2 separate regions of the Homo sapiens genome follow, and region 1 is linked to region 2. The links come from fine-mapping of genetic effects on gene expression. Tissue or cell type: breast. Region 2 holds a variant in brackets; the other region holds the start of a gene. All regions are shown on one strand. Distances are between the middles of the regions.

Region 1 (6,257 bases), 260 kb after region 2:
CCTCGGGGGAGGTATGAAGCACTGCAGGGAGCGGGTGAGACAGGCCATGGATACCCCTCAGACCAACATGGGAATGACCAGGGAAGCACCTGCAATGCTGGACAGTGTCTGCGTGGCAGCTACGGGGACAGGGCGAGTCCATAGCATGGAAAAGTCAGCTCACAACCCTGGGTCTGGGAGGGCCGTGTCCTCCTTCCACCCACATGGCTTGACACTGCAGCCTGGGCACAGGGCAAAAACTTTCCTCGGGGAGCAAGGATGTGAAACAGGTTGCTGGCTAAGGCAGACACCCGCATGGAATGCTGAAGAAACGGCCTGGGTGAGAGAAAAACAGGACTTCCAGCGCCATGGGGCAGGGTCTGCAACTCAGGCTCTGCAGCTTGTTGTCGGGAATTAGGCTCCTGGTGGCAGAGAGCAAAGCACTGTGCAGCCACCCTCATCCTCCCCACCTGGGAAGGCACTTCAGCCAGAAGTGGGGCCACATTGGGAGAGGTGCCACACCTGTCTGCCCTCAGAGGTGCCTGTAGCCCCCTTTCCTTTCCCCTATGTGTCTGAGGGCATCCTCCACACCTCCCCCCCCCGTCCCCCTGCCATCCAGCCTCAACCTCCCGCAGAACCATCCAGACCTGAGCCACATCGATCTGTGGATGCTCTGACCCACTTCATTTCCTTCAGGCCACAGCCCAAAAGACGCTGATGTGACTGCTCCCCACCCCCGTTCTCAGAACCCAGAGCCAAAGGAAATTCTCCAGAGAAAACACACACACTTCCCAAGTCTTCCTCCCACACAGGTACCCTAGATCTGTCAGCCACAGACACCTCCCAGACCTACCCTGGCAATGAGGCACGTCTGCTGCCCAAGCAAAGTGCTTCCTCCTGCTTGGGCCACTCCTGCAGGACTTCACAGCTGCCGGGGCCATGCTCAGGACTGTCCTCTGGAGACCGGGGGCCTGGTTCCAGCTCAGCAGCTGACTCACAGTGTCAACAGATCCCACTTGCCCCCACCGGGAGCATGTGCGCTCAGGGCCTCTAATTCCCTATGACAGGCCCTCAACCTTCCGGCTCCCTTCCTCCCAATCACATCCCGTGCCACCATTTCCTATGGCTCCTGCCTCCAGCCCTGGTCTCTTTACTTGATGAGACTCTCTGACCTTTGTACAGTCTTTCGCTGTTTGCAAAGTGTTTCCACGTGCACCATTTCCTTTCATTCTTTACTACCAGACCACCATGTGACATGCCTTGATTGGTGAAGTCACCTGCTGAAGGTCACACAGCCAACACTGGAATTAAAGTGATATGGCTCCAAAGGCATCGGACAGTGCTCCGGTTATAGGGAACTCATCAGCATCTCCAAGCACCCACCTTGGCAATTTGGCGACCACCTGCCACCCTACCCTCAACATCATCTTTTTGGACTCATAAGTGCCTTCCCCAGCACAAGCTCAACCCTGTGATTCTTCTACCACTGATCCCACTCCCCCAAGAGATCCACAAAGAACTGAAGATTTCCCCTACACTGTAAGACTTCTCTAGGAGGAGCTGCAAATTGCTTCTCTGTAAAGTAAGGCACTAGGTGATGCTGAGTGAGACCTTCACCCAAAGCTTCCCAAAGGACTGGTGAGAGCAAACACAATCTCAGCGCAGATGGAGGGGTTTTAACATAGGAGCTAAGCAGAGAGGACAGACAGAGCCCTTGGAAAGGAATTTAAGCCTGGGGGTGGGAGTCCCGGTGGCCCCAGCAGATTCCCAGTGGCTGCAGAATCATCTTTCAAGCATACCCCAATCGATCCAATCCTCTGGACCCAAAGGCTCCCCAGCATCAAAGAAGAGAGGCAACTCCCAGATACCCTGGAGTGAACCCATCAACCCAGGGAGAAGGCAGGACCCCGTGACTACAGATAGATGGTGCGCCATACCACTCCCTCACTCGCTGACCCGGGTTACCTCTTGGTCCTGCTTGCTTCTCAGGACATATTCTGGGACACCGATCACCACTGAAAATCATCCACCCCTCCCTTCATTCCCAAAGCTAGATGAAAAGCTAGATGAATGGTTCTCTCTACCTTAGCCCAGGACAACGGTAGTGCCTGGAAGGTCTCTATCTGGGTTACCATCAGGGCCCTTGTGGTAGAAGCTTCTCCTGGCATCTCTTGTTTATGCCCATTATAAAGGACACCAACCTTCTCCCAGCCTTCTGCCCTCCTCAGTCCAGTGTACCCAACAGGCATTAAAACTGGACCCCCATGACAGAGGCAGTGTCCCCTTCATCGCCCGTGAGGAAGGATGGGCATTTACCCTTCCCATTCATCAGGATGGGAGGGCCACGGACTCCCCCCGCGGCAGTGCCGGGTAGCCCCCCGCACCACACCGTGCCAAGGCCCTTTCTCACAGTCATGCCAGGAACTCTAGCCATGCTGAGAACACCAATTCTTCAAGCCCCCAGTGCTATCACCCCAGATCATGTCAAGCCCAAGGCCAGAACCATCCCAACACCCAAGCAATGGCAGCACTTCCTCACACCCATGCTAGCGGCACCACCATGCCGGCACGAGCTGGCCACCTATCCCATAACCAGTCCGAAGGCCGTGCCCATCACCTACCTGTGCAGACAGCTGCACCACCTCACACCTGCGTGGCCACCACCGCACCAAGGTGGAGGCGAGTCTTCTGAGACCCGTTCCAGGAAAACCACGCCGCCTGTGCCGGACCCACGTTGCCCACGCCCGTGCCACGCGTGTCACCATCCCCACGCTGGTGCCAGGGGCTCCACAGACCTCACACCTGCCACGGGCGCGCGTGGCAGCTGCAACTCCGCCCGCCGACCCGTCGGGCCGGCCACCGCGCGCCCTGGACACTGCCCAGCCCGCCGCGCCGCTCGCACCGCGCCCGCGCCCAGGACCGGCCCGCCGCGCCGGAGGCCCCCCTTACCTCCCGCCCGCCGCAGGGCTCGGCCCGCCGCCGCGACCGCCACCTCCATCCTGGGCTCCCCAAGGCCCCGATTCACTAACGCCGCTTCCGCAGGGCGCCGGCGCCGGCGCGAAGGCCGCCTCCGCCCCCCGGGGGACGCTGCGTCCTTTACGTAAACCCCTCTCCGCCGCCAGCGGTGACCATGGCGACGGTCGTGGGGAGGCAGCGCCCCCTGGCGCCAGGGAGGGGAGCGGCGTCGAGGCCAGGGAGAGCCGAGTCTTCCGCGGGCGCCGGCCCTGCGCGTGGGGGCGGTGGGCGCCTGGCTCAGGCTCGGCTGGGGTCCCGTGGGCGGCCGGGAGGGGCTGGACTGGCCGCGATGCGTGCGGGGAAGGGAGCCGCCTGGGTGCCTGCCCCTCCTTTAGGTCCCTCGTGACCAGTTTTAGCGTGGGAGAGGGAAAAAAGGAAGTAGGATCACTGGAGAACTGGTTCATTTGTGGGGAGGAGAGAGACGGGTCCCACCTCCTCGGGGTGACTGAACTCTGCTTGAGAAGTCAGAGCATGGCTAGAGTTCCTGGCGTGACTGTGAGAAAGGGCCTTGGCACGGTGTGGTGCAGGGGTCTACCCGGCACTGCCGTGGGGGGAGTCCGTGGCCCTCCCATCCTGATGAATGGGAAGGGTAAATGCCCATCCTTCCCCACGGGCGACAGAGCCCGTGGGTACCCTGGGTACCCCCTCCTCCCTACCACCCCCCCACCCCCCACCCCTACCCCCGTTCCCAGTGCCCAGCATCGTGCCTGGTCTCCAAAGGGGTTTACTTGGTCAATTTTGAATTTCTGGTAAATGAAGAAAACCGCCCCTCCTGTTCCCCTTCACGCCCTTTCATTCACCGTAAGTCGCTTACACCTCCCTGGGAGCACTGTGCTGAACTGGGGGAGTGGAGCACAGAGAGGAGCAGAAGGCGGGCCCTGACTTCAAGGAGCTCATTCTGCTGGGGAGGAGACGCAGATGGAGGGGGTTTTAACACAGAAGCTAAGCCGAGAGGACAGACAGAGCCCTTGGAAAGGAATTTAAGCCTGGGGATGGGAGTCCAGTCTGCAGGTCGGGATGACTCAGCTGGGTCCCAAAGATCCAGTAAAGATTCATCAGAGACAAAAAGGGGAAGAACGTTTTCTTTCAGGCAAGAGAAGTGCCTCTAAAATGTTTCCTAGGCCCTGTTGCCACCCCCAAAATCACAGTGATCGCGCAGTTCAGTAGAAGTGGGAGCCATAGGTGAACAAGGAGGTGTGGGTAGTGGGGTGCCCGGCTTGAGCAGAAGCCTCGGTCTGAAAATTACGTGGACATTTGGGTTGGAAATGAGACTGTGAGGCCAGGACTGCCTTTTATTGAAGCAGATGGAGCCACTTCTGGAAGGAGTTCTGTGTTACCTGTGATTATTTAGAAAGCAAACTCACGTAGGTAACAAGGAAAATGAGGAGTGGGCGCATATACCCAGTGGGGCACCTCAGGGGATTCAAGGAGGAGTTGAATTCCTCAAGGCTCAGGAAGGGCAGAGATCAGGGGAGGCTTTAAGGGACAACTGTAGCAGTATCAGTTTAGGGATCTTCTTTCTAGATCATTGCCATTAATCAGAATCAAAACTGCCAGATTGGATGTCTCTTGGTTCAAAGTTCCCGATTCCCAGAAAAAAAGAATCTTATTAGTCCAGATCAGGCCACGGTCAATCAGCTATGGCCAGGGCAGAAAGTGCTTTGTGATACAAACATGTCAGTCCACTTTTCCCCGTTGAGAGACACTCCCAGAGGAGGAGAATCATGACCTGAACAGCCAGTCCAAAGACTGTCGGCCAGGGGCGGTGGCTCATGCCTGTAATCCCAGCACTTTGGGAGGCAGAGGCAGGTGGATCACCTGAGGTCAGGAGTTCGAGACCAGTCTGGCCAACATGGTGAAACCCTATCTCTACCAAAGTACAAAAATTAGCCTGGCATGATGGCAGGTGCCTGTAATCCCAGCTACTCGGGAGGCTGAGGCGGAAGAATCACTTGAACGTGGGAGGCAGAGGTTGCAGTGAGCCGAGATCGTGCCATTGCACTCTAGCCTGGGCAAGAGAGCCAGACTCCATCTCAAAAAAAAAAAAAAAAAAAGGCTGTCTACTACGGATCCATCCCTTAGCTGTCCCATGTACACAAACTCACATGTGTCCATGTGCACACATGTGTCCCGACACACGCCAGTCCTTCTTCCCATTCCTCCAAAGTTGTCTTCACCAGACAAGTACCAACAGTCACCTTCACACTTGATGTCATGAGGCTACTATTATTTCAAGATCTTCAAGGTGATTGATCCCATCTGGTCATTTAACTGAATTAAAGGGTTACTTTTACCATCACCAAATCCTTTGAACTCTTGCTACTCAGAGTGAGACATTGGCACCACCCAGAAGCTTAACGGGAATGCATAATCTCAGGCCCAAGAATCTCAGGTTGGCAACAAGATTCCCAGGTGATTTGAATGCACATGAAAGGCTGAGAAACACCACTATTATAAATGTTAGGTGACCGGGTGCGGTGGCTCACACCTGTAATCCCAGCACTTTGGGAGGCTGAGGCGGGTGGATCACCTGAGGTCAGGAGTTCAAGACCAGCCTGACCAACATGGTGAAACCCCATCTCTACTAAAAATACAAAAATCAGCTGGGCATGGTGATGGGCACCTGTAATCCCAGCTATTCGGGAGGCTGAGGCAGGAGAGTTGCTTGAACCCGGGAGGTGGAGGTTGCAGTGAGCCGAGATCCCGCTACTGCACTCCAGCCTGGGCAACAGAGTGAGACTCCGTCTCAAAAAAAAAAAAAAAAAAATAGGCCCAGCGTGGTGGCTCACGCCTGTAATCCCAGCACTTTGGGAGGCCGAGGCAAGCAGATCACAAGGTCAGGAGTTCAAGGCCAGCCTGACCAACATGGTGAAACCCCGTCTCTACTAAAAATATAAAAATTAGCTGGGTATGGTGGCGCGCGCCTATAATCCAAGCTACTCAGGAGGCTGAGGCAGGAGAAGCGCTTGAACCTGGAATGCGGAGGTTGCAGTGAGCCGAGATCACGCCACTACACTCCAGCGACAGAGCAAGACTCCCTCTCAAAAAAATACATACACACATAAATGTTAGGTGAAAGGAAAAGGAAAGATAACAAAAACATTTTCAAATTGTGATTCATATTTTCTTAAAGGGGGAAATGGTCAACTATTTAATCTTCAACAACTCTAGTAACAAGCAAGGAAAGACAGGGAGGGACTGCAGTCTTTATTTTTGCAATTGGTCACAAACTCCTAGAAGGTACTAGCGAATTCCATCCTCTA
Region 2 (7,791 bases):
CATTAGGTATTTGTCCTAATGCTCTCCCTCCCCTTGTCCCCCACCCCCACACACCATTTTTGCCTTTATATAATTATCTGCCTAGAAAAAAAAACACTATTTCGCAATGACCTTGAATACTTTTCTAATCATGGCAAACAATAAAGCTGTTGTTATTATAAGACTCTCTTTAGAGGCAGCCTTGTAGGAGTATTTACTGCCTCCCCGCTGCCCCATCGCTGTCCTCAACTGATATGGGGAAAGAAGCAGGTTCACTTCAGCCTCAGTCTCCTCATATGCAAAATGGGACAACGATGCCTACCTTGGCAGCCGAATGAGAATGATGGATGGGACATGTGTCCGTCAACTCTCCAAACCACTGGTGCCTGTGCCTGACCCCTACGAATTCTGATTTGATTGGTCTGGATGGACCCCAGGTGTTGGGATTGTTCAAGTTCTCCAGGTGATTCTGATTTTATGGCCTGTGCTGAGTCATTGCTTAATGGATTATTTCCCTATCCTGTATTCCCTTCCCAACCAACACATCCTGAAACTCAAGAGCTTTCCATTTAGAAGATGATAAATATATATTATATATATTTATATATTAACATATGTAAATATGTATTAATATGTCTATAATATTACAAATATATTTGTATGTACACATATATTTATACATATAAATATATAAGTAAATATATAACTATATTTTTGAGACAAGGTCACCCAGGCTGGAGTGCAATGGGTGTGATTTTGGCTCATTGCAACCTCCACTTCCCAGGCTCAAGCAATCCTCCCATCTCAGCCTCCCAAGTCGCTGGGACTACAGACGCACACCACCACACCCAGCTATTTTTTTTTTTTTTATAGAGATAGGGTCTCACTACATTACCCAGGCTGGTATTGAGCTCTAAGTTCAAGCAGTCCTCCCACCTAGGCCTCCCAAAGTGGTGGGATTACAGGAGTGAGCCGCCACACTCGGCCAATAAGTATGTTTTAACTAAAGTTAACACACATGCCTGGCACCATGCCTGGAACATTGATGCTCATTCTGTACTCTCTGAAGGAATAAATGAAAATCCTGCCTTTGTGGAGACAAGTTCTTGCCTTCCCTGTGGTGGCCACTAGAGAGCGTGCTTGACTAGCTGGCTCTGGCTGGGGAAGCCTGGTTCACTGGTCAGGATCAGTGCAGACCACGGAGCTGGCACTGCTTCATCTCCCTGACCCCGACCAGCAGCCATAGAGCCATGAGAGGGAGTTGGAGACACTAGAGTCCCTCCTCCCTGTTCCCTGAACCGCAGGCTCCTTGGCAATATCCCAGGAGTACCACCAGGACCATAGACAGTGCATGGCCAGTCTCCCTTCCCCTCCCAGAGGCCCCAGCATGTCCCCAGAGACATCCCATGAGCAGCTGCTCCTGGCCCTGCCCCAGAGCTGAGACAGGCACACCCTGGCACAAGTCATGGTCTCTCCTACTGGGTCTCAGCTATGAAAATGTCCCCAGTTAGCCAGGCACGGCTCAGGCACACAGCAAAGTCATGAGTGCTGATTGACCCAAGCCATGCCTGGAACAAGAGTCCCAGGATTGACCCCTGCAGAGATGGCACCCAACCCAGTCAAGGTCGCCCTCTTCTGCTTTCCGTTCCGCAAAGAAAATATTCGCCAAACCATTTCTCCTTCCAGAACTGAGCCTAATCTGATTCCTGCCTGTACGTATTCATAGTCAAAAAATTTGGAAACACTTAAATAACAACTCTAACACAGAATGGCAAGGCCTAAGATCTGTGCCAAGTGCACAGAGGTCAGGGAAATTTTTACAGACAATGGGGCATTTCGGTTGGGTCTTGAAGCATGAGTAGGAGTTCATGGAGCTGAGAAGAATGGAAGAGCATTACACATCAGGGGAACAACCTACGGAAAGTCATAGAGCTATTCCTGAAGGATGATTCAGTATCGCATGTTTATCCACATTTTACAAAGGAGGACACTGAAGCTCAAGGCCTGCCTTGTCCAAGGTCACACAGCTATAAATGGCTTGAGACTAGGATCTAGGTCTTTTGATTTTGGATCCTGAGCCCTTTCCCACTATCAGCTCTACAGTAAAGGTCAGTTTCTGAGAGGTAGAGTCTTACCTGCTAGGGTAGTGGTCTCTCTTGGGGTTGAAGGGAGGTCCAAAGGATGGGGCCTGCATGAAAGATACTTTTTTTTTTTTTTTGAGACGGAGTCTCGCTTTGTTACCCAGGCTGGAGTGCAGTGGCATGATCTTGGCTCACTGCAACATCTGCCTCCTGGGTTCAAGTGATTTCCGGCTAAGTATTGTATTTTTAGTAGAGATGGGGTTTCACCATGTTGGCCAGGTTGGTCTTGAACTCCTGACCTCAAGTAATTCACCCGCCTCGGCCTCCCAAAGTGCTAGGATTGCAGGCATGAGCCACTGTGCCTGGCCGCATGGAAGAAACTTTGACTGCAGCAGATTCCAAGCTCTCGAGCTCCCCAGCAGAGAGCCATCTCTTGGGGCAGCAGGGCAGAGCTGGGGAGATGCGCGGGGGTGCCAGACACAGAATGCTATGGCCTTCTCATCTAGAATTACCATAGCAACAGGAGCATCACAGAGGGCCTGCCTCGGTGCCCTTCTAGGCCCTGCCTCAGCTGGGCAGGAAGAAGGAGACCCAGCTTGGCTGGGGGCAGTAGGCAGGGGGCCCCGGGGTAAGTCAGCCAGGCCTGGATGCTGCCTCCAGGCTTTATGTGGGACACCTGCCAGCCCACACCCCTCTCTTGGGCCAGTCACAGAACAAATAGGGCAGAGGCCAAGAAAGAAAAGGAGGGGGCTTGGCATAGCTGGACAGGGGTGCTGGGGGACACTGCCAGTCCAGGGCCCGGAAGCCAGACAGACAACAGCACCTCCACCCTGAGCTCAGGCAGCCCTGATCCCTGAAGGACGGAGTAAACTCAACATTCAAAGAGATAGAAACATAAGCCCTGGGCACCACAGAAAGACGACAGAAACCAGGAGAGGCTGGGATACACCTAGGTCCAACTTCATCAAACCCAGTCCTGCCCATGACAACGGAATAGCATGGAATAGACCAGAGCTGGACCAACTAGAGACACAAGGCAAGAGGATCCACTGTGCTGCGAGGTCCCCCATGGACTCTGCCAGGCTGCAGTCGGCCAGGTGAGGCACTGACCACTATCCACCTTCCACCCACCCCCACCCCTCCAGCTCAGAACTGGGGCTCGTGGCAGGTGGGTAGCGGAAAGGACATCATGGGTCAGGCTTCTCCTAGACAACTGTGCAGGGCCTGGATGCTGTCAAAGGTTCACACCCAGTGAGTAGCCTCAGTGTCTTCAGCTCAAATGGGCATGTTGAGTTTGACGTGCTGTGAAAGAATGGTAAGTTTCTAGTCCAGCTGCTCATTTTGCAGACAAAGAAACTGAGGCACAGAGAAGGAAAATGACTTGCCTGAAGTCACAGTAGGCCGCCTGTCTAGGTGAGTGCAGCAACTCCCCGCTGCCCCAGGATGCTCCTGCGGTTCGCTTCCACGGCGAGCACTGAATGCCGACCGACCGTGTTTAGCGCTGCGGTGGCCACTGTGAGAGGGAAAGAATAGTAGAAACAATCAGTTCTCCCCATCTTGACCACTTACCAGGTGTCAGGCAGTGCACTAAGCGCTCTTTAGAAATGTCATCTACTCATCAAAACAACCCCTGGGGAAGAGGAAGGGTCATCCATCTGTCAGGTGGATGGATGTTGGAGAGGACGGCACAAGGGTAGGCTAGATGAGGAGTAAGCCACATTGGCCCCTATCTGTCAGGTCAATGGGCTGACGGCAGGCTGCCTTAGCTGCCTTTCCCTGCCTCAGATGCAGACTGGCTGGGCTTCCACAGCTACAGCCTTCTCCACCCATGCTAGGGCTACCAGACTTAGCCAATAAAACTACAGGCCAGGCCAGGTGTGGTGGCTCCTACCTGTAATCCCAGCACTTTGGGAGGCTGAGGCGGGTGAATCACGGGAGGTCAGGAATTCAAGACCAGCCTGGCCAACATGGCAAAATCCCGTCTCTACTAAAAATACAAAGATAAGTAGCCAGGCATGGTGGCGCATGCCTGTAATCCCAGCTACTCGGGGAGGCTGAGGCAGGAGAATCACTTGAACCCGGGAGACAGAGGTTGCAGTGAGCCAAGATTGCACCATTGTACTCCAGCCTGGTTGACAAGAG[C/T]GAAACTCCGTGTCCAAAACAAAAACAAACATTAGATGACATCCTGGCAAAACAACTACAGGACAGTCAGGCAAATAAGAACTTCAGATAGAAAAGTGAATAATTTTTAGTGTAAATATGTCCCGGGGGAGGGGCCCGGGAGCATCGTCCTTTTTTCTGTGGTCCCTCTGCTTTGCTGATTTGCTTAATTGGTCCATTCCTTCCTGCTGCTGACTTCTAGAACCTGGCTTCTCAAACTGAGGTCTGGGGCCCAGTTACATCATTTGGAAGCTTGTTACCAATGCAGAATCTGCCCTGGTGCAGTGGCTCACACATACAATCCCTACATTTTGGGAGGCTGAGGTCGGATGATTGCTTGAGCCCAGGAGTTTGAGGCTGCAGTGAGCTATGATCACACCAGCTCAGAACTGCAGTCCAGACTAGGTGACAGAGCAAGACCCTGTCTCAACAAAGGAGGGAAGGAAGGAAGGAAGGAAGGAAGGAAGGAAGGAAGGAAGGAAGGAAGGAGGGAAGGAAGGGAAGGAAAGGAAGGAAGGGAAGGAAGGGAAGGAGGTAGGGAGGACTCCATTCTGTAGGTCGTCTTTTTTACTTTGTTGAGGAGGTTCCTTGATGCACAAAAGTTTTTAATTTATTTTGAAGGAGGGAGGAAGGGAGGGGAGGGGAGGAAGATTCATGTATGCCTGCTTTATACAACTATAAGAGAGATTTAAGACTATTGCTTACAATTCAAAAGGACTAAATGCTTGTTATAAACAATTAGGAAACTACAGAGCAGTTTAAAACAAAACAAAACAAACTCCCAAACAAGGTTATCATTTTGATGTATTTCCTTCCAGTCTTTTTTTTATAATTTTAATATTGAGGGGCAATCCGTGTCCTGTAAAATTCACCTTTTCCACTTATGTATGTAGTGTTTACATATTTACTGATGCTAAAGCCATCCTAGTAGGTGTGCAGTAGTATCTCATTGTGGTTTTGATTCTCATTTCCCAGATGGCAAACGATGTTAAGTATCTTCTCATGTGCTTATTGGCTGTTTGTTTATCCTCATTGGAGAAATGTCTATCCAAGTCTTTTGCCCATTTTTTCAGTTGGATTGTTTGCCTTCTTGTTGTTGTTAGAATTATTTATATATTCTGGATACTAGACCATTATCAAGCACGTGATTTACAAATATTTTCTCCCATTCTGTAGATCATCTTTTTTACTTTCTTGAGGAGGTTCCTTGATGCATGAAAGTTTTTAATTCATTTTGAATTTTAAACATTAAAATTTTAATTTAGATAAATTTTGACACTGTCAAATCCAAGGTCATGAAGATTTACCCGTACGTTTTCTTCTAAAACTTCTATCGCTTTAGTTCTTACATTTAGGAATTTGACCTATTTTGAGTTAATTTTTATGTATCATTTGAGGTAAAGGTCCAACTTTCTTCTTTTGCATGTAGCTATCCAGGTGTCCATGTATATTTGTTGAAAAGCATATTCTTTCCTATTGACTTGTCTTGGCATACATGTTGAAAATCAATTGATAATACATATATGGGTTTATTTCTGGACTATCAATTCTATTGAGCTATATGTCACTTCAATATTTCATTGTTTTAATTATGTAGCTACGTAGAAATTTCGAAACCAGGAGTGTAAGTTCTCCAACTTTGTTCTTTTTCAAGATGGTTTTAGCTATTTGGGGTCCATTGCAATTCCATGTGAATTTTAGGATCGCCTTGCCCATTTCTGCAAAAAACGCAGTTGGAATTTTGATGGGGATTACACTGAGTCTGTAGATCACTTAGTCATCTTTACAACATCAAGTCTTCCAATCCATGAACATAGGATGTCTTTTCATTTATTTAGGTATTCTTTAGTTTCATTCACCACTGTCGTAGGGTTTTCAGTGTACAAGTCTTGCATCTTCTTGGTTAAAAATATTCCGAAGTCTCTTATTCTTTTTAATAAGAATAAAGTTCCATTTTGTAAATGGCATTATTTTCTTAATTTTATTTTCAGATTGTTTATTGCTAATGTATGGAAATACAGCTGATTTTTGTATATTAATCTTGTATCCTGTAACTTTGCTGAATTTATTTACTAGCTGTAATAGTTTTTGTGTGGATTCTTTAGGGTTTACTACATATAAGATCATGTCATAATTTGCCAGGTGCAGTGGTTCATGCATGTCATCCCAGCATTTGGGGAGACCAAGGAGGGAGAATTGTTTGAGCTCAGGTGTTTTTTGTTTGTTTGTTTGTTTGTTTTTTAATTTATTTTTTTATTGATAATTCTTGGGTGTTTCTCACAGAGGGGGATTTGGCAGGGTCATGGGACAATAGTGGAGGGAAGGTCAGCAGATAAACAAGTGAACAAAGGTCTCTGGTTTTCCTAGGCAGAGGACCCTGCGGCCTTCCACAGTGTTTGTGTCCCTGATTACTTGAGATTAGGGAGTGGTGATGACTCTTAACGATCATGCTGCCTTCAAGCATCTGTTTAACAAAGCACATCTTGTTTGTTTGTTTTGAGACGGAGTTTTGCTCTTGTTGCCTAGGCTGGAGTGCAGTGGTGCGATCATGGCTCACTGCAACCTCCATCTTCTGGTTTCAAGCGATTCTCCTGCCTCAGCCTCCCAAGTAGTTGGGATTACAGGAGCACGCCACCATGTCTGGCTAATTTTTGTATTTTTAGTAGAGGTGGGGTTTCACCATGCTGGCCAGGCTGGTCTCAAATTTCTGACCTCAAGTGATCTGCCCGCCTAGGCCTCACAACGTGCTAAGATTATAGGCATGAGCCACCATGCCTGGCCTTTACACTGATTTTCATATGTTCAACTACCTTGCTTGCATTCCCATGATAAATCCCACATGGACACGATGTATAATCTTTTTAACATGTTGCTGGATTGGATTTGCTAGTATTTGGTTGAGGATATTTGCATCTATATTCATAAGGGATATTGGTCCGTATATTCCTTCTTTTTTTTGAGACAGAGTCTTGCTCTGCTGCCCAGGCTGGAGTGCAGTGGTGCGATCTGGGCTCACTGCAAGCTCCGCCTCCTGGGTTCACGCCATTCTCCTGCCTCAGCTTCCCGAGTAGCTGGGACTACAGGTGCCTGCCACCACACCTGGCTAATTTTTTGTATTTTTAGTAGAGATGGGGTTTCACCACATTAGCCAGGATGGTCTCGATCTCCTGACCTCGTGATACACCTGCCTCAGCCTCCCAAATTGCTGGGATTACAGGCGTGAGCCACCACGCCCAGCCTGGTCTTTATATTTCTTTCCTTGTGAGATATTGTCTGGCTTTAGTTTTAGGATAATACTGGCACAAGAGAATGGGTTATGAAGTATATTCTTCTCTATTTTTTGGAACAGTTTGTGGATTGGCATTTATTCTTTATTTGCTCCTAATCGTTTCTCTATTGGAAGTTTTTTGATTACTGATTCAATCTTGTGTTTGAGGTCTATTCAAGTTTTCTGTTTCTTCTTGAGGAAGTTTTGGTTTCTAGGCATTTGTTCATTTAATCTAGGTTATCTAGTTTGTTGTCATACAATTTTTCATAGTGTTCTATAATTCTTTCTGTATCTGTAAGGTTG

Direction of the effects. Alleles are on the strand shown, and positions count from the first base shown. SD is a standard deviation of normalised expression in the study named.
For the expression in breast of the gene that starts at base 3,042 in region 1, allele T in region 2 goes with a lower level than allele C (small effect, 0.34 SD a copy in GTEx).

The links. PIP is the estimated chance that this variant, and not a neighbour inherited with it, causes the effect.
Region 1: DAGLA starts here. The variant in region 2 is fine-mapped to the expression of DAGLA in breast (GTEx, PIP above 0.99).

Annotation. Positions count from the first base shown.
Region 1 is chr11:61,677,176-61,683,432 of GRCh38, reverse strand. It overlaps DAGLA (diacylglycerol lipase alpha), which reads right to left and starts at 3,042. Exons shown (of 20, transcript NM_006133.3): 1 at 2,929-3,042. RefSeq lists enhancers at 1-170, 171-845.
Region 2 is chr11:61,941,139-61,948,929 of GRCh38, reverse strand. It overlaps a transcript of RAB3IL1 not described here. Among named protein-coding and RNA genes, the nearest start is that of BEST1, 5.3 kb to the left of the region's middle. RefSeq lists a silencer at 2,718-2,881 and enhancers at 4,752-5,253, 6,423-7,077. The variant C/T (reference allele first, on the strand shown) is at 4,203.